2 separate regions of the Homo sapiens genome follow, and region 1 is linked to region 2. The links come from fine-mapping of genetic effects on gene expression. A gene starts in region 2. The other region holds a variant in brackets. All regions are shown on one strand. Distances are from middle to middle. Region 1 has its middle 38 kb from the start of SCML1. Region 2 holds the start of SCML1 (Scm polycomb group protein like 1).

What was found. PIP is the estimated chance that this variant, and not a neighbour inherited with it, causes the effect.
Region 1: its variant is fine-mapped to the expression of SCML1 in whole blood (TOPMed, PIP above 0.99).

The regions. Positions count from the first base shown.
Region 1 is chrX:17,771,113-17,779,452 of GRCh38, forward strand. No RefSeq gene overlaps it. Among named protein-coding and RNA genes, the nearest start is that of SCML1, 38 kb to the left of the region's middle. The variant T/G (reference allele first, on the strand shown) is at 4,884.
Region 2 is chrX:17,733,140-17,741,479 of GRCh38, forward strand. It overlaps SCML1 (Scm polycomb group protein like 1), which reads left to right and starts at 4,354. Exons shown (of 8, transcript NM_001037540.3): 1 at 4,354-4,541. It overlaps NHS (NHS actin remodeling regulator), which reads left to right. Exons shown (of 9, transcript NM_001291867.2): 9 at 1-2,855.

The DNA of each region.
Region 1 (8,340 bases), 38 kb after region 2:
TTCACTTGTCTTCACTTTGTCTTCCTGTGACCCATTCCCACAAAAGATCTGGTTCTTCGCTACAAATTCTGTCTTCCTGAAACGCACACCCACTTATTGCCTGGCACTGCTGATTTCCTACTGTCTTCCTAAGATTCCTACCTACACAAGAAGGGGCTATGCCCATTCCATTCTTGTTTGTTTCTTTCATACTCACACGTGATCTGCCTTTGCCCATCTCTTATGTCTTCCTGACATTCATAATACACATTATCTGCCTCTGACCATCTCTGTCTTCCTGACATTCATACTCACACTTTATCTGCCTCTGCTCATCTTTTACTGTTATCATTCATATCACACATAATGTGCCAGGCATATCTTTTACTGTCTTCCTGAGGCTCTTGCCACACCTGATCTACCTCTGCTTATCTCTTACTGTCCTGATGTTCATAGCCACACATTATCTGCCTCTGCCCATCTACACCTGATCTACGTCTGCTTATCTCTTACTGTCCTGACGTTCATAGCCACACATTATCTGCCTCTACCCATCTCTTACTGCCCTTCTGATATTCATTCCTACATGTGACCCGCCTCTGCCCATCTCTGTTTTCCTGACATTCACAGCCACACATGATATGTCTTGTCCTACTCTTACTGTCATCCTGACCTTCATACCAAAGGTGATCTGCCTCTCCACTTCTTACTATCTTCCTGACATTCACACCACACGTGACGTGCTAGGCTTATCTTTTACTGTCGTCCTGACATTCATACCACACCTGATCTGCCTCTGCCCATATCTTACTGTCTTTTTGACATTCACACCAACACATGATCTACCTCTGCCAATGCCTTTCTGCATAATTGACATTCATAACCACACATGATCTGCTCTACCCACCACTTACTTGCTCCCTGACATTGATACCACATTGATCTGCCTCTGCCCATCTGTTACTGTCATCCTGACATTCATACCACACATGACCTGCCTCTGCCCATCTCTAACCGGTTTTGTGAGACTCATACTCACACATGATCTGTCTCTGTCCATGCCTTACTGTCTTCCTGACATTCACATCCAAAGATGATTTGCCACTCTCCATGTCTTACTGTTTTCCTGAGATTCATACCCACTCATTATCTGCTCTGCCCATCGCTTCCTGTCTTCCTGACATTCATACCACACATGATCTTCCTGTGCCCACCTCTTATTGTCTTCCCGACTTTCATACCCACACATGATCTGCCTCTGCCCATTTCTTACTGTCTTCCTGACACTCATGCCACACATGATCTGCCTGTACCCATCTGTCACTGTCTTTTTGACACTAATACTCACACACGATCTGCCTCTGCCCATGTTTTATTGTCTTCCTGACATTCATAACCACACAAGATCTGCCCCTGCCCATCGCTTACTGTCTTCCTGAAATTCATATCACACATGGTCTGCCTGTGGCGGTGTCTTACTTTCTTTCTGACATTCATGCTACACATGACATGCCCCTGCCCATCTCTTCCTGTCTTTTTTTACATTCATACACACACACGATCTGCTCTGCCCATCTCTTAGTCTCTTTCTGACTTTCATACCACACATGATCTGCCTCTGCCCATGTCTTATTGTCTTCCTGACATTCATATTCACACAGGATGTGCCTCTGCCCATCTCTTACCTTCTTTCTGACATTCATATGCCCACATGATGTTTTGCCCATCTCTTCCTGTCTTCCTGACATCCATACCACACATGATCTGCCTCTGCCTATCTCTCTCTGGTTTTCTGACATTCATACCACACATGACCTGTATCTTGCCATCCCTTGCTGTCCTCCTGACACTCATACACACACATAATCTGCTTCTGCCCAGCTCTTATGGTCTTTCTGACATTCATAAATATACATGACCTGCCTTTGCAAATTCTTTACTGTCTTCCTGACATTCATAACTACGCATGATCTGTCTCTGTCCATTTATTACCATCTTTCTGACACTCATACCCACGCATGATCTGCTGTGCCCATCTCTTCCTGTCTTCCTGTCATTGATACCACACATTATCTGCCTCTATCTCTTACTTTCTTCCTGACATTCATACCCACACATGATCTGTCTCTGGCCATCTCTTACTGTTTTTGTGTCATTCATACCCACACGTGATCTGTCTCTGCCCATCTCTATTTTCATGACATTCAGACCACACGTGATATGCCACTGCCCATCTCTTACTGTCTTTGTGACATTCAGACCACACATAATCTGCATTTACCGGTCTCTTACTGTCTTCCTGACACATATACTCACATATGATCTTCTCTGCCCACCACTTCCTTCCTTCCTAACATTGACACCACACACGATCTGCCTCTGCCCATCTCTTACAGTCTTCCTGACATTCATACCCATGCATGATCTGTCTCTGCCCATCTATTACCATATTTTTGACATTCATACCCACACATGATCTGCTCTACCCATCTCTTCCTGTCTTCCTGACATTGATATCACACATGATCTGCCTCTACCCATCTCTTACTGTCTTCCTGACATATATACTCACATATGATCTGCTCTGCCCATCACTTCCTTTCTCACATTGATACCACACATGATCTGCCTCTACCCATCGCTTACTGCTTCCTGACTTGCATACCACACATGATCTGCCTCCACCCATTTCTTACTGTCTTCTTGACATATATACTCACATATGATCTGCTCTTCCCATCGCTTACTGTCTTTCTGACATTCACGCACACACGTCTGCCCCTGCCCTTCACTTACTGTCTTATTTTCCTTCATACCCACCCGTAATCTGCATCTGTCCATATCTTACTCTCTTCCTGATACTCATAACAACACATTATCTGCTCTGCCCACCTATTACTGCCTTCCTTACATGCATCCCCACACATGCTCTGCCTCTACACATCTATTACTGCTTTTCTGACATTCATAGCAACACATGCTTTGAGGCTGTTCTGCTCTTACTGCCTTCCTGATATTCATGCTCACACATGATCTGCATCTGTCCATCTTATACTGTCTTCTTGACATTCATATGCACACATGGTGTGCCTCTATCCATCTTTTGCTGTCTTCCTGCCATTCATACTTACACATGATCATCCTCTGCCCATCTCTTCCTGTCTTCTTGACATATATCCCCGCAGATGATTTGCCTTTACCCATCTTTTACTGTCTTCCTGACATTCATCCTTATACATGATATCCCTCTGTTCATTCTTTGCTGTCTGCCTGACATTCATACCCACACATGATCTGCCTCAGTTCATCTCTTACTGACTTCCTGACATTCATAGCCAGACATGTTTTGACTCTGTCCATTTCTTACTGTATTCTTGACATTCATACCCACACATGAGCTGCCTTCTCCCATCTCTTACTGCCCACCTGACATTCATACTCACTTGATCTGCCTCTTCCCATCTCTTTCTGTCTTCCTGACATTCATACTCACATATGATCTCCATCTCCTCATCTCTTACTGTGTTCCTAACATTTATGCCCACACATGATCTTTGTCTGTCCATGTCTTACTGTCTTCCTGAAATTCCTACCCACACATATTTTTACTGTCCATCTCTTACTGTCTTCCTGACATTCATACCACACATAATCTGTTTCTGCCTATCTCTTACTGTCTTCCTGACCTTCATACCCACACATGATTTGCTTCTTCCAATCCTATTGTCTTCCTGACATTCATACCCACACATGATCTGCCTCTGCCCATGTCTTACTGTCTTTCTGACATTCGTACCCACACATGATGTGGCTCTGACCATCTCTTCCTGTCTTCCTTTCATTGGTACTCACACAGGATCTGCCCCCCCACCCCCCTTCTCTTCTGTCTTTCTGTGCTCCATCCTCACACCTCTTCTGCTCCTGTCCGTGTCTTTCTGTTTTAGTAGGGTCCATATCTACCCGTGATGTGTTTCCTTCCCTTCTCTCGTTGTCTTACTTGATTCTGACCCTTACTGAATATTCGACCCATCCTTCTCCTCTCGGCCACTCTTGTGAAGCTGCCCTGGCCATTTCTCCAAGGCTTCCGCATGTCCAGCTTCCTCCTGAATTCAGGCCTCGCCTTGCAGTGGCTCTTCCTGGGTTTCTCTGTTCCCAGGTGTTGGGGCTTCTTCCTCTTTGAACAATTCATGTCTCAGTTCCAATGTGGCCTCTCAGAGAAGTCTTCTGTGACTGTCCTTCTTGGCACGTCCTCCCTTCCTTGTCATCCCCTTTCACACGCCTTCGGAAAGAATTTTGTTCATTTCTGTTTTCCCTCCCCTTGCTGACCAGAAGGTCAAGGTCAAGGCCTGGTGTGTGCGGCTGCCTGGTGTGTGCGGCTGCCCGCTCTGTCCCCGCCTCTCTCTGTCCCCGCCTCACGATTGTGCATGGCGCCCTGGAGGTGCTCAGTGAGGATGTGTTCAATGAAGAAGTGAATTCTAGGAGTCAAGACACAGCTCAGCAGGAGTGGCCATGCACGCTGAAATTCACGGGACCCCAAGGCAGAGGAAAGCTGGGAGGAGCCAGTGGATTTGGACTGCAGAAAGCCGGTGGTCGGCTGTGGCTAACTGCGCTTGCAGGACCCACGAGGCGGAAGGTGGTGGAAGGAGGGACTGGGGGGTGGGTTCAGGGAGGAAAAGAAACGTGAGAATTTGAGTGGCTGGAGAAGAAAACATGCGGCCGCAAGCGTGTGAGGCAAGCCTCGGGCCAGGGGCTTGGCTGTCCTTCGTGGTGGGCTGGTCCTGCTGTCGTGTTGCCATCGGGGGTGGGAGCTGGGGCTCCTGGCCTGTAGACAGGGCTTGGCTTCAGGCACCAGGAGCCGCTGTCTACACGTAAGAGAGGCGCGAAGAGCTCAGGTTGGAAGGGGG[T/G]TGTTTAGAGGACACCGTGCCCCGAGGCAGGTTGAGAGGCAGGAGGACTGCTCAGGTGGGATTCGCGGGTGATGGCCGGGGGCTCAGTGAGAGGGCTGGGGAGCTTGATCTCCTGGTGCAGCGGCGGGGCTGGAGAGGGCAGTGAAAATGGAGACCATCAGAGATAGCCCTTGGGCCACGGGGCCGGGGTCCAACAGCAGTTGGCGTCATTTTGCAGGGGGAGGAGTCGTGGAGCCTGGAGGGGAGGTGCAGAGGCTTCTCAAGCTGTCCACGGGGGGTGCCAGGGTCAGGGGGCCACAGAGAGCAGAGGCCCAGCACTGGAAGCCAGGGAGGCGGGAGTCCAGGACAGGGTGCCCCTTGGGTGAAGGCAACACACAGACTCCCGTACCAACACGTGCGCGGGTCACCAAACCCACACCAAGTCAGAAATTCCAGTGCACGCAGACGGTCTACCAGTTCCTGCTGGGGGCCTGCGGAGGGCCCATGGGCGCCGCCTGTTCTCAGGACTGGCTCCCGCTGGCTTGGCCCTGTCCACGGAGGCCCCTCCATGGCGCTTTCCATGCCTCTCCTTTCGGGGACCCTCCTCTGTCCAAGAGCCTCAGAGCCTTTCGGAAAAGGGTTGGAGAGGGAAAGACCTGCCCAAAGCACTCAGGGCTGGGCCCCCCTCCTCTACCACCTCTGCCTGTGTGGCTTTGTCACAGGGCTCAGGCAATCCGAGTCTGTTTTCTGCTTGGTCCAACGAGGATCACCCCTCCCCCAAGGGTTGTGACAGTTCAGAGAGATCAAGATGGGAAAGCATCTTGTCCCAAAGGGTGCCCACCCTGTCCCTGCTTGCCTTCTTGCCTTTCCCACACCCAGGCCCCACTGCTTCCTTTTCTACAGCCTGGCCACAGCTCACCCCACCACACGCAGTGAAACTGCAGCCCCAGGAAGCCTTACTATTAAGGAAGACTTTCAATTCCTTCTTCAAATTCTTTTGAGCTTGGGTGTTGGAGTCACTAGCTATGGGTTCTGGGTGTCTGTTTCTCTATCTATAAAGTGAGGCTGGGAGGATCTCATACATTGGTATGGACTATGTTCACATAGTGTCCTGGGTTAGAGTATCACTTTTTACTGACTGTGAAAACAGCTGAATTATTGGACTCTTTCTCCATTTTGCTCACTCCATTCCTGGGGAAATGGATGGGATTTTTTTCTGATCAGTAAATTTGGGAACAGTAGATTAGGCAATAATCTGTCCAGGTCCATCTTCTGCTTCTGGGGTTTCTGGGTGGGTGAGCCTGGCTAATACCGGAATCCTCTTGCAGACCTCTTGCACTCTCATGTTCAACTGCATCCTCTAGTGGGAGAAAGATGATATTTTAGCCTCCATCTTTACTCTTTTATTTCTCAACTTTTTAGGACCTGGGGGGCAAAGAAAAGAGGGATGATATTTATTGCAGCCCCCTTGGAAAGTAGGTGTCTAATCTCTCTCTCGCTCTTTCTCTCTCTCTCTCTCATACACACACACACACTCACACATAGAGTCAGTCATCAGATTCTGTTGCCTCCTTCTCCAAAACACAGCTGATTCTGTCCATCCCTTTTGTCTTCATCTCTTGCTGCATCATTTTACAGACATTAGCTACCCACATTTAGGGTCAATAATGGCTATCTTCTCCAGGTTGTTATGCGCCATGAATCTAAAATAACTTTTATGTAACCTGAATACATAATCATAATAGTGTCCCTCAGATCTCTAATATGACTCTTTCCTACCTGGCTAAACTCATTTCCTACTTATTCTGACCCACACACTTTGTGCCAGCCAACTTATCTTTATACTGTTTCGATTTTCTGAACACAGACCTTCCTCTCACCTCAAAACCATTTGAAATAGATAAAGCAGCTCTTTTCTCTTGTATACTAAAGATACCTCCAATGATCCCTGCTCCCTGGTTTCTGTACCCTTGTGCAATCCTCTCCCATTCAGTGTAACTTGGACTTACTGAATCCCCTTAAGGACAGACGTGATGAGATGTCAATTCTGCAATTAGATTTTAAATGCTATGGGCTCTGTCTTAGACATTTTTTCAAATAGCTTGCTCTAGAGGAAGTCAGCTGCCATGTCATGTGGCATCCCAAGAGTTGCACATGCAAGGTCCAAGGTTGGCCTGCAACTTTGCAGGTGAGCTTGGAAGTGGATTCCTACCCCATCACCCACTGAACTTTCAGATGAGATCTCAACCAGCTTGACTGATACCTCAGGAGAGATCCTGAGCCAGAACCACCTGTCTAAGTTGGGGTTGGGCTCCTGACCCATAGAAACTGGGAGATAATCAATGTTGTTCTGCAGCAATACATAACTAAAACAATGACTTCCTGCTTTTTCTGTCTTTTTTTTTTCAGGGTTTTGCTCTGTCACACAGGCTGTAGTACCACATGGGTGTCATCATTGAGAAGTATTTATTGAGTGATGATTACTGTTTTTTAATGTTGCATCTTCTTTTATTAATTTATGTCTCAACATATTTCATAAGTGAGCCTGGCTGCTTGTGAAATCAATAGCAATGCTTCCGTTAGAAAAAGTGCAGGTACACAAGAAATGACTGGTCAGAAATGTGATCTGCAGTGGCACGATCACAGCTCACTGCAGCCTCCTCCTCCCTGGGCTCAGGTGATCCTCCCCCCTCAGCCTCCCAAGTTGCTGAGACTACAAGTGTGTGCCACCATGCCTGGCTAATTTTTGTACTTTTTGTAGAGATAGGGTCTAGCCTGGGTTCCCCAGGCTGGTCTTGAACTCTTAGGCTCAAGTGACCCTCCTGCCTTGGCCTCCCAAAGTGCTGGGATTACGGGAAAGAGCCACTACACCTGGCCTCCTGCCTTGTTTCTAAAGACAAAAAATGTGTTGGATTACTAATCTCTTTTCCCCAAATCTCACTGCCAAGTTGTCCTCCCTTTGATTTCCTCTCTCCACTGGTAATAACCATAGAATCTGATGGAAAGCTGTCTGTTGCTTATAAGTGCACAGGAAATTCTTGATGGCTGGTTTTTGATTAAAGTCCTAATCTGTTAAATCTGAACTCTGGAAATCTTTGCAGAAAGTCCCAGTGAGATTTTGAAGGAGTGAATACACTTTCCTCAAAGTGAAAATATGCAAAGTTCCTTCTTGGTGTGTGAAACGTTTGATATGCGCAACCTGCTCTGGTAGTTATTTTTAGATCTTCTCTGTTGTGGAGTGCCTGGGTCTTGTTTTCACTTGTCTTTTGGTGTTTGTGTGTGACTGAATGAGGTCAATTCCAAGGAAGAATAAGGAGTTGCTGAATATGCTTTAGGGGGCAGTTATGGATATTTAGATTTATTTCTTTTCCCCCCTTTTGTTCTTAAAAAATTGGTTTTTGCTGTTTACTTTCTCTATACATGAGTGTACATCTTATTCCTGTATGTGAAGTTTAGCTATAATATATAGTCAGCATTA
Region 2 (8,340 bases):
AGGAAATCTTGAGGTCATATACTGAAATATGAATAAATTAAAATAATGAATTCAGATCTAATCATTTTTATGACAAATTGCAGCACCAAACAAACTAATAGCAACCCATGGCTGTGATTTGTTGTGTGGTAATTTGGACAGAATGAAAAGCATGCTTTTGATTTTTTTTTTAATCAGTGAGAGAAGTCATCATTCTCAACACAAAGCCCTGAACAACAGCATTTGACAGTGTCCTTTAGATTTTAATTTTTTCAATGGATTGCTTTAAAGAGAATGAGTAGGGAAAATAGTAGTTAATTTTAGGTTATGTTTTATATTAGGCTACTGGGGACATAAACGGTCATAACTAATGACTGTAATCATTAAACTCCTTAAACAGTTTAGAAATTAGCTCCAGGTTCTTAAACTAACAAAAATAAAACCTAAGCATGCCACAGAGCTATTGATTAATCAGTAAGTACCTGTAATGAGTTTTCAGTGAAGCTTTCTCTCTGTGCTGATGAGATTCATGCTACCTAAAAATTAACAGAAATGACACTGTGAACAATGTAGTTGGAAAATAGGTATGTGTATATGCATTATTTATACTCATTGTTAAACTGGGAATGGGGAACAGCTCTGGTTCACAATACTACATACAACTGAGTTTTTGTCTGGTTTTACTATAGTGTCTGCTTGATGGCAAAAGGGGAGGGTGGAGGGTGGGAGAGGAAATGTCAGGGCATGTGCTCTGATAAAATAAAGGCAGGGAAACAAGCTGAATTACTTGAAATTACTTGAATTTTCTTGTCTTAAAACTGAAAAAAAAATGTAGTTACACGTTAAAATCTGCAAATGGTTTTTACACCTCTGATTTTAACATGAACTTATACTAATGTTTGGAATCTTATGTCAGAAATATAAGCAGCTATGTACTTAGAATAGGTTTTGAATGGGAGAGGTAGAACAGAGAGAGAATTAAGAAGGGATCTGACTTATAAAAGACTAGAATGTGATTAGAGTGATAGAACATACCAATGTTACCAAGAAATTGACAAGCTGCTGGCTTTAAGCTTATGCAAGTGGTAGTTGGGAAAGTAGGAGGTGTGGAAGAGGGTTTGCATTTTGGATTAATTCATGCAAAATGAAGGAGGAAGCCTGGTCTAAGAAGATACTGTCTTTCAATAGAAATGATTTCTAAACTGCTACAGATTAAGAATAGATAATCTGATTGCTGTTGTTTTGTTTGTTTGGAAAGAAAAAAAATGTCTGGCTTCTTCTACTATTTGTTTTCACTACCAAACTGTGTTACTAAATTTCTTGTCATCCTTGTATGTAAAATGGGTGCTGGGGGTGGAGGGGTATAAGAGGAGGGAGAGTCAGAGAGAGTGTGTATGGGTGTGTGTGAGTGTGAGTGTGTGTGTACGCACACACACTGGGGATAGATAAGCTACCTGGTAAAGGGTTTGAACATTTACAAAATGTCACACTTTTTCTTAAAAGAAAAATATTTTGGGGTTTGAATAAAATGGACCACCATTTCTCATTGGAACCCATTAATTAAGAAAACCAGCATGGTTTGACACCACATGGGAACATGAATAAATCTGTCTCATGATTTGAAAAGTACACCTTGCAAAGTTTTAAAAATAAAGTTTTTAGGCAAATGCGATAAGAAACCGTCATTTCCAGTCACAGTAGGCGATCTTTCGTAATTTCATAAAAGCAGTTCGTTTGCAGTATGGCTTTTGTGTAGTTAGGGGTTTTTTAAGTGTGAAGAAAGGTATGTGGGCTTTAAAAGTGATTCTAAATCTTGAATAGAAAACACATGAATTGGCTTTAATAAAAATGTCACCTTTTTATTATTGACATTAAGTAATGGTACCATATATTTTTTAAAATACATATTGACTTGAATTGTGAGGCAATAAGATACCTTCTATATGTAATGATCACAGAACTAACCCTTATAATATAGTTTTACTTATTTTGTTTACTCTAAAAATCTATAGCAGAGTTTCTCTATTTTATATTTCATAGATTTAAAAAACCCAAATAAAGATGGATTTAAAATTCACTGTGGAAAAGAGTATTGAGTTACAAACTGAGAAGAAAAAGCAGGAAGTTCCCTAATAATCTGGAATATTCTACATGGCTTGATTACATAGCAAACAAGACCAAGATTTAGGGCTGTCTTTAACATCACTGCCGTCTTGAAGCAGGGTACACACGTTAGGTATTGTGAAGAACATCAATCCGAACTTTTCTTCTGTTGTTTGCACTGATGCGATTTTTTGTTCTTTTATGTTTATACAACGTATCTATGTTGTGTAGGGGAAATTTTTTCATTTTTTAAAAATTCTACTTTGGTTTTGTTGTTGTTTTGATTTGTTTTTGGCTAAGTAGAGGACATGGACTAGTTGTAGCAAACAGAACATGCTGTTTGCTCTTGCCAAAGGTCAGTGAGTGAGTGCATTTGCTGCAGTGGTGGCACGTAGAGAACTAGATGGTAATAAAGATTTAAAACTATGAAGAAGGTTACAGTGTAACTATTTTGGTACTAGAACCAGTTCATGCTGGCCGAAACGACAATGGTTTATGGACTTGCATCCATTTTGTATTTTTGTAATATTTGTAAATATGAACTTTTTAAATTGCTGCAAAGATGGTTTCTTTTGTAAGATGTTTTCAACGTTTACATTCAATCCAAGCCTTTGTATATTTTAGAGCTGTGCAACACTTTAAGTCTTGTATTTATTTTTAGTAAAAATGGTGACAGTTTCATTGTGAACCCCTCTCAAAAAAAATGTATCAGAAAAGTTTGATTACCTAGAAAGTGTGTATAGAAACTGCAAATAAACGTGACTGCAATTAAACAACCGGTTTCTCTCTTCACTGTTACGTAATTGATTTCTTGGGGCTTCGCAACAGTGTTTTACAGGCAACAGGACATAAGGGCAGGGTCTGTTATGGCAAAAGTAGGAGCAAAAAGAACATAGACCAGCCTGTCCAACATGGTGAAACCCGTCTCTACTAAAAATACAAAAATTAGCTGGGCATGGTGGCAGACGCCTGTAATCCCAGCTACTCTGGAGGCTGAGGCAGGAGAATCGCTTGAACCCAGGAGGCAGAGGTTGCAGTGAGCCGAGATCACACCGCTACACTCCAGCCTGGGCAACAAGAGCAAAACTCCGTCTCAAACAAAAACAAAAACAAAAAAAAAACATATACTATATCTATAATGGGCTTTAATCTAGCTTCGTATTTGAGAGGAAAAATGATACATTTCCAACGTCCAGTATACTTTCTTTGTAGCTCCTCTCTGGGCCAAGAAAAGATGTATAGCTTTACTTTGAAATATCTGCCTGCTTTGCTTCTGATAATTACTCAGACTGTGTCTCCTTCCCAAGATGAGCAGCCTCGATATAAGTATGTAAGACTATATGCCACTAGATGATGTCACATAGCCTTTATTACAATAGCAAAATTCTATGCCAGGTACTGTTCTAAGTGCTTTGCATACATTAACTCATGTAGTCCCCATATTATACCCATTTTACAGATGGGGAAACCGAAGCACAAAGCGGTTACTTGGCTTGCCTAAGGCCATAGGAGGACTGTGTTGGAGCTGGGGGTCCAATCCAGTAAATCTGCCTTCAAGGTCTGCGTTAGTTCCCCAGTCCAACTTGTGGGTGCTGGAGACTGGAAATATCTTGCCCGCCCCCCACCCTGGCCCCCCTCGCCCTTCCTACCAGACCTGGCTCAGGGCAACTGCTAAGGCCCCGCCCCTCTCCTCATTCCAAGTCAATCACTGGCGTGCGTCCAGGAAACCCAGTTTACGACGACGTCTCTGGTGCGTCACAGAGCGCGGGGGAGGGGCGGGATCACATTAAAAAAAAAAAAAAGCTTCGGACACCCCAACAACGAAGGGGGGACACCACGTCCCTAACTACAACGCCACTAGAAGGGTTGCGCATGCGCGCCAGCCTCCTGCGCAGCCGCAGAAACCACTCAGCGCGCGAGTCTCTGAAAGGCCTAACGTCCATTTTCAATCCTGCGGGTCTTGCGAAGGAAAACCTGAGGTAAGAGGCCCCGCCCCACAGCCATCTCCTCAGCAAATTCCCGCCCTCGGCCCCGCCCCACAGCTATCTCCTCAGCAAATTCCCGCCCTCGGCCCCGCCCCACAGCCATCTCCTTAGCAAATTCCCGCCCTCACCCAAGGACTGGGAGAGCACCCGCGGATTGGCCGATCAACGGTGACGCCTGTCAGTGGCCAGACTCCGATTGGTCAGCGGGTAGTCCCGCCCCCCCCCCCCCCCCCCCCCCCCCCAACCGCGAGTGTGGGAATTCGGCGTCGCGGGAGCTCTCTGATCCACTCAGGGGTCAGGGCATCACTGGTCTCGCGTGCGCGTGACCAGGCCCGGTTTCCGGTGCCAGGACCTTTCCGAAGCGTCGAGTGGCCTAACGGTCACAGCTGTCGCCCATCGGAGAGGCAGGACTACTGCGAGCAGTTTTACCGCGACCTCCGGAGGCCGGCGTGACAGGCTCTGTCACTAAAATAGGTCTGTCCAGTCGTACTTTTTCCTCACCTTGAACTTTCCGTCACGGGAATACACGATTTGGCTTAGGGGCCGGGGCTCTCCTGAGGAGAGAGGGTTTGCTTTGCGGGGAAGAGCGAGTCTTGACTTCGCAGCCTCCAATTTCAGCCGCGGTGTGGAGGGGGGTGCTTTGGGTGGTCCCCACAGCCTTTCCGGAGTGCCCGCGCGTGTAAGCTTTTGAGATTTGACAATTTGTGAAGTGCTTGGTGCTGACTTTCGGGGACGACAGGATCCTTTTACAGTCATTCTCCTGTCAGGGGAGGCAGGTGGGGAGCGAGGAAGGATCCAGATTTCGTTAACAGAGCTTTGAGTTTAAAGAATTGACAAACTCCCGAGTTGATTTCCTGTCAGACCTTTTGCGGTTGAGACATAGAGTCTGAGGCTTTGATGGTAACCGCGTTTGATTTAGAGACAGACTGTGCAGCTTCGCTGTTTTATTGTAAATACGTAAATGAGGAGGAAGAGAAAAACGTAGGGTGTTGGGAGCAGAGGCGGGAGGCGGGAGATCCTGCGAAATCGGAGTCCCTTTGGAGTGGGGGAGGCCGTCGAGGCGTGCGAGGGCCCGGCCCCCTTGCCGCGTGGTCGTTAACAGGAAAGGCCCTGATTTGGTTGGTGGCGGATCGCGTCCCTCCCTCCTCTCCCCGGCTCTCCCCGAGTGCGGCAAACTGGCTTCAGGTTGACTAAAAGATAGCGATTTTCCAAGCAGCTTTGCCGCGCGGTGTTTTCTAAAGCGGGGCGTGGGCTGGGTGCCCTTTTGGGCCTCACTTGTCCGGCCTGCGGCAAGTGCTGGGCGATGGGATGCGGTTCTGGCGGCAAAGGAAGGGCTGCCTTTGAGAGTCCCGCAGGAAGGTTTAGAAAGTGATTGTTCTTAAAACAAACAGAGCGTTTTGCTGTGTGTTCCTCAAAGTGGTCCCGGTGGGAGTGGCGCCTCATTGTGAGCTGTGCCTTATCTGATGAATTAATGGCAGGTGAAAGCCTTGCGCCTCCGGAGCGAATATTTACGACTTTTGAAAATGTCTTTAATGTCTAAAAAAAGTCTTTTAGAAAATCAGACGGCCTCTTGTTCTTATGTTATCAAGAGTTTAGATTTCTGTGGTAAATATAAGTGAGTTTCATTTTAAGTAAACTCATTTTACGAGATTTGAGATTTGAAAGTGAAATTAATTAATTTTGCACAATCTAGCCTTGGGCTCTGAGAAAATGTTGTAAAGCTGTAATTAATCTTGTGGGACGAAGTGAAAAGGAACTAAAGTGTATGGTGTAATGAATAGTTTAAATTTCTGTGGTAAATACAAGTGAGTTTCATTTTAAGTAAACTCATTTTTATGGGATTTGAGATTTAAAAGTGAAATTAATTAATTTCGCACAATCTAGTCATGGTTGGGCTCAGAAAATGTTGTAAAGTTGTGATTTATCTTATGGAAAGAAGTGAAAAGGAATTAAGGTATATGGTGTAATTAAGAGTTTAAATTTCTGTGGTAAATGCAAGTGAGTTTCATTTTAAGTAAACTCATTTTTACGGGATTTGAGATTTAAAAGTGAAATTAATTCATTTTGCACAGTGTAGTCATGGTTGGGCTCTGAGAAAATGTTGTAAAGCTGAAATTATTTATCTTGTGGGAAGAAGTGAGAAGAAACTAAAATGTGTGGTATTATCAAGAGTTTAGATTTCCGGGGTAAATATAAATGAGTTTCCTTTAAACTCATTTTTGTGGAATTTGAGGTTTAAAAGTGAAATTAATTTTGTAGAATCTAGTCATGGTTGGGCTCTGAGAAAATGTTGTAAAGCTGTAATTTATCTTGTGGGAAAAAGTGAAAAGGAACTTAAATTTATGGTGTTATCAAGAATTGGCCAGGCGCGGTGGCTCACACCTGTAATCCCAGCACTTTGGGAGGCCGAGGTGGGCAGATCACTTGAGGTCAGAAGTTCGGGACCAGCCTGGCCAACATGGTGAAACCCAGTCTTTACTAAAAGTACAAAAATTAACTGGGCATGGTGGTGCAAGCCTGTTACGCTAACTACTCGGGAGGCTGAGGGAGGAGAATTGCTTTAACCCGGGAGGCAGAGGTTGCAGTAAGCCGAGATCATGCCACTGCACTCCAGCCTGGGTGACAGAGTAAGACTCTGTCTCAAAAAAAAAAAAAAAAAAAAAAGAAATTTAGATTTCTGTGGTAAATATAAATGAGTTTCATTTTAAGTAAACTCATTTTGTGGGATTTGAGATTTAAAAATGAAATTAATTTTGCACATTCTAGTCATGGTTGGGCTCTAAGGCAATGTTGTAAAGCTGTAATTGTTTGCCTTATGGGAAGAAGTGAAAAGGAATTAAAATTTATGGTGTGTCTACTATGAACCAGGCATGATGCTGAGAGTTTAACTGTGTAATTTTTGGCCTAAATAGCCCTGTGAAGTAGATATTATTCCAACTTTACAGGTTAGAAAATTTGAGGCACAGAGAGGTGAAATATTTGCCTAAAGTGAAACGGCAAATTTGGCAATTTGGACTTGGATTCAAGTGTTTATAACTAAAGCCCAGCTCCTTGCATCATACCCTGGTACCTAAAAGACATAAAAACTCACTTCAGGTGCAATGTGAATGAAAATGACGTTATGACCCAGGCTTGTTGTCTATGTGCTCCTTGAGAAATAGTTCTGTTGGATAGATGCGGTCAATACTCAAAAGCCCTTGCTATCTTTGCCATGCATTACTCTAAGCACTTGACATGTATTAATTTAATCCTCACGATTCCGTGAGGTATGTGCTATTATCATTCCCATTTTACAGACAAAAAAAAAAAAGGATTTAAGTAAGTTGTTCAACTTACTTACACAGCTAGTATGTGGGGGAGGTGGGACCCAAACCCAGGTATTCTGACCACAAGCCTAAGGTCTTAATGCTGTTTGATGCTGCCTCTCATGTAACCAGATATGTGTGACAGTTGCCGTAGAAGTATTAAAGTGTGAGTGTTATTGTAGTTCAGGGAAAGCCGTGTCACATCCACATGGGATGATCATTGGCATGGTGCCCTTGCTTTTTGGAGGTGAAACTTGAAGTAAGCCTTGAAGTTGAATAGATTCTCCTAGGCGGAGACACAACAGGGTATTATGGACGGAGGGCATAACAGGAGCGAGAAGCTCAAAGAGTGAAAGATTGGTGTTGATTTGTATATGTACCAGAGATGTAAACATGTTGGGAGTCCAGTGGTGGACTCACTGCACAGTGCTCCTGTGTCTAACTACAGCCAAATTTTGACAACATTGTTATTAATCCAAATAGGGAGTTCTCTGTTCTCTGGATGTAAGAGCTTGTAACCATTGTCTGCAAACTTGCCTGAAACAGGCTACACAGTAAATATTTTAGGCTTAGAACTGCTGTCCCCAGTCTTTTTGGCACCAGGAACCGGTTTTGGTTTTGTGGAAGACAATTTTTCCACAGATGCAGGGACGGGGGAGTGCTAGCGGGGTATAGTTTCCTAATGAAACTGTTTCATAAGGAGAGTGCAACCTAGATCCCTCGCATGTGCAGTTCACAATAGGGTTTGTGCTCCTGTGCGAATCTAATACTGCAGCTCATCTGACAGGAGGCGGAGCTCAGGCGATAATCCTTGCTAGCTCCTGCTGTGCTCCTAACAGGCCAAGGACCAGTACCAGGCGGTTGCCCAGGGGTTGGGGACCCCTGGCTTAGAGTAAAGGGGCAAGTGGTAAGAAGTGACCTCTGCGCAGTGGGCGGGGTCCTGATTATGGAAGGACCTTGCAGGCCAT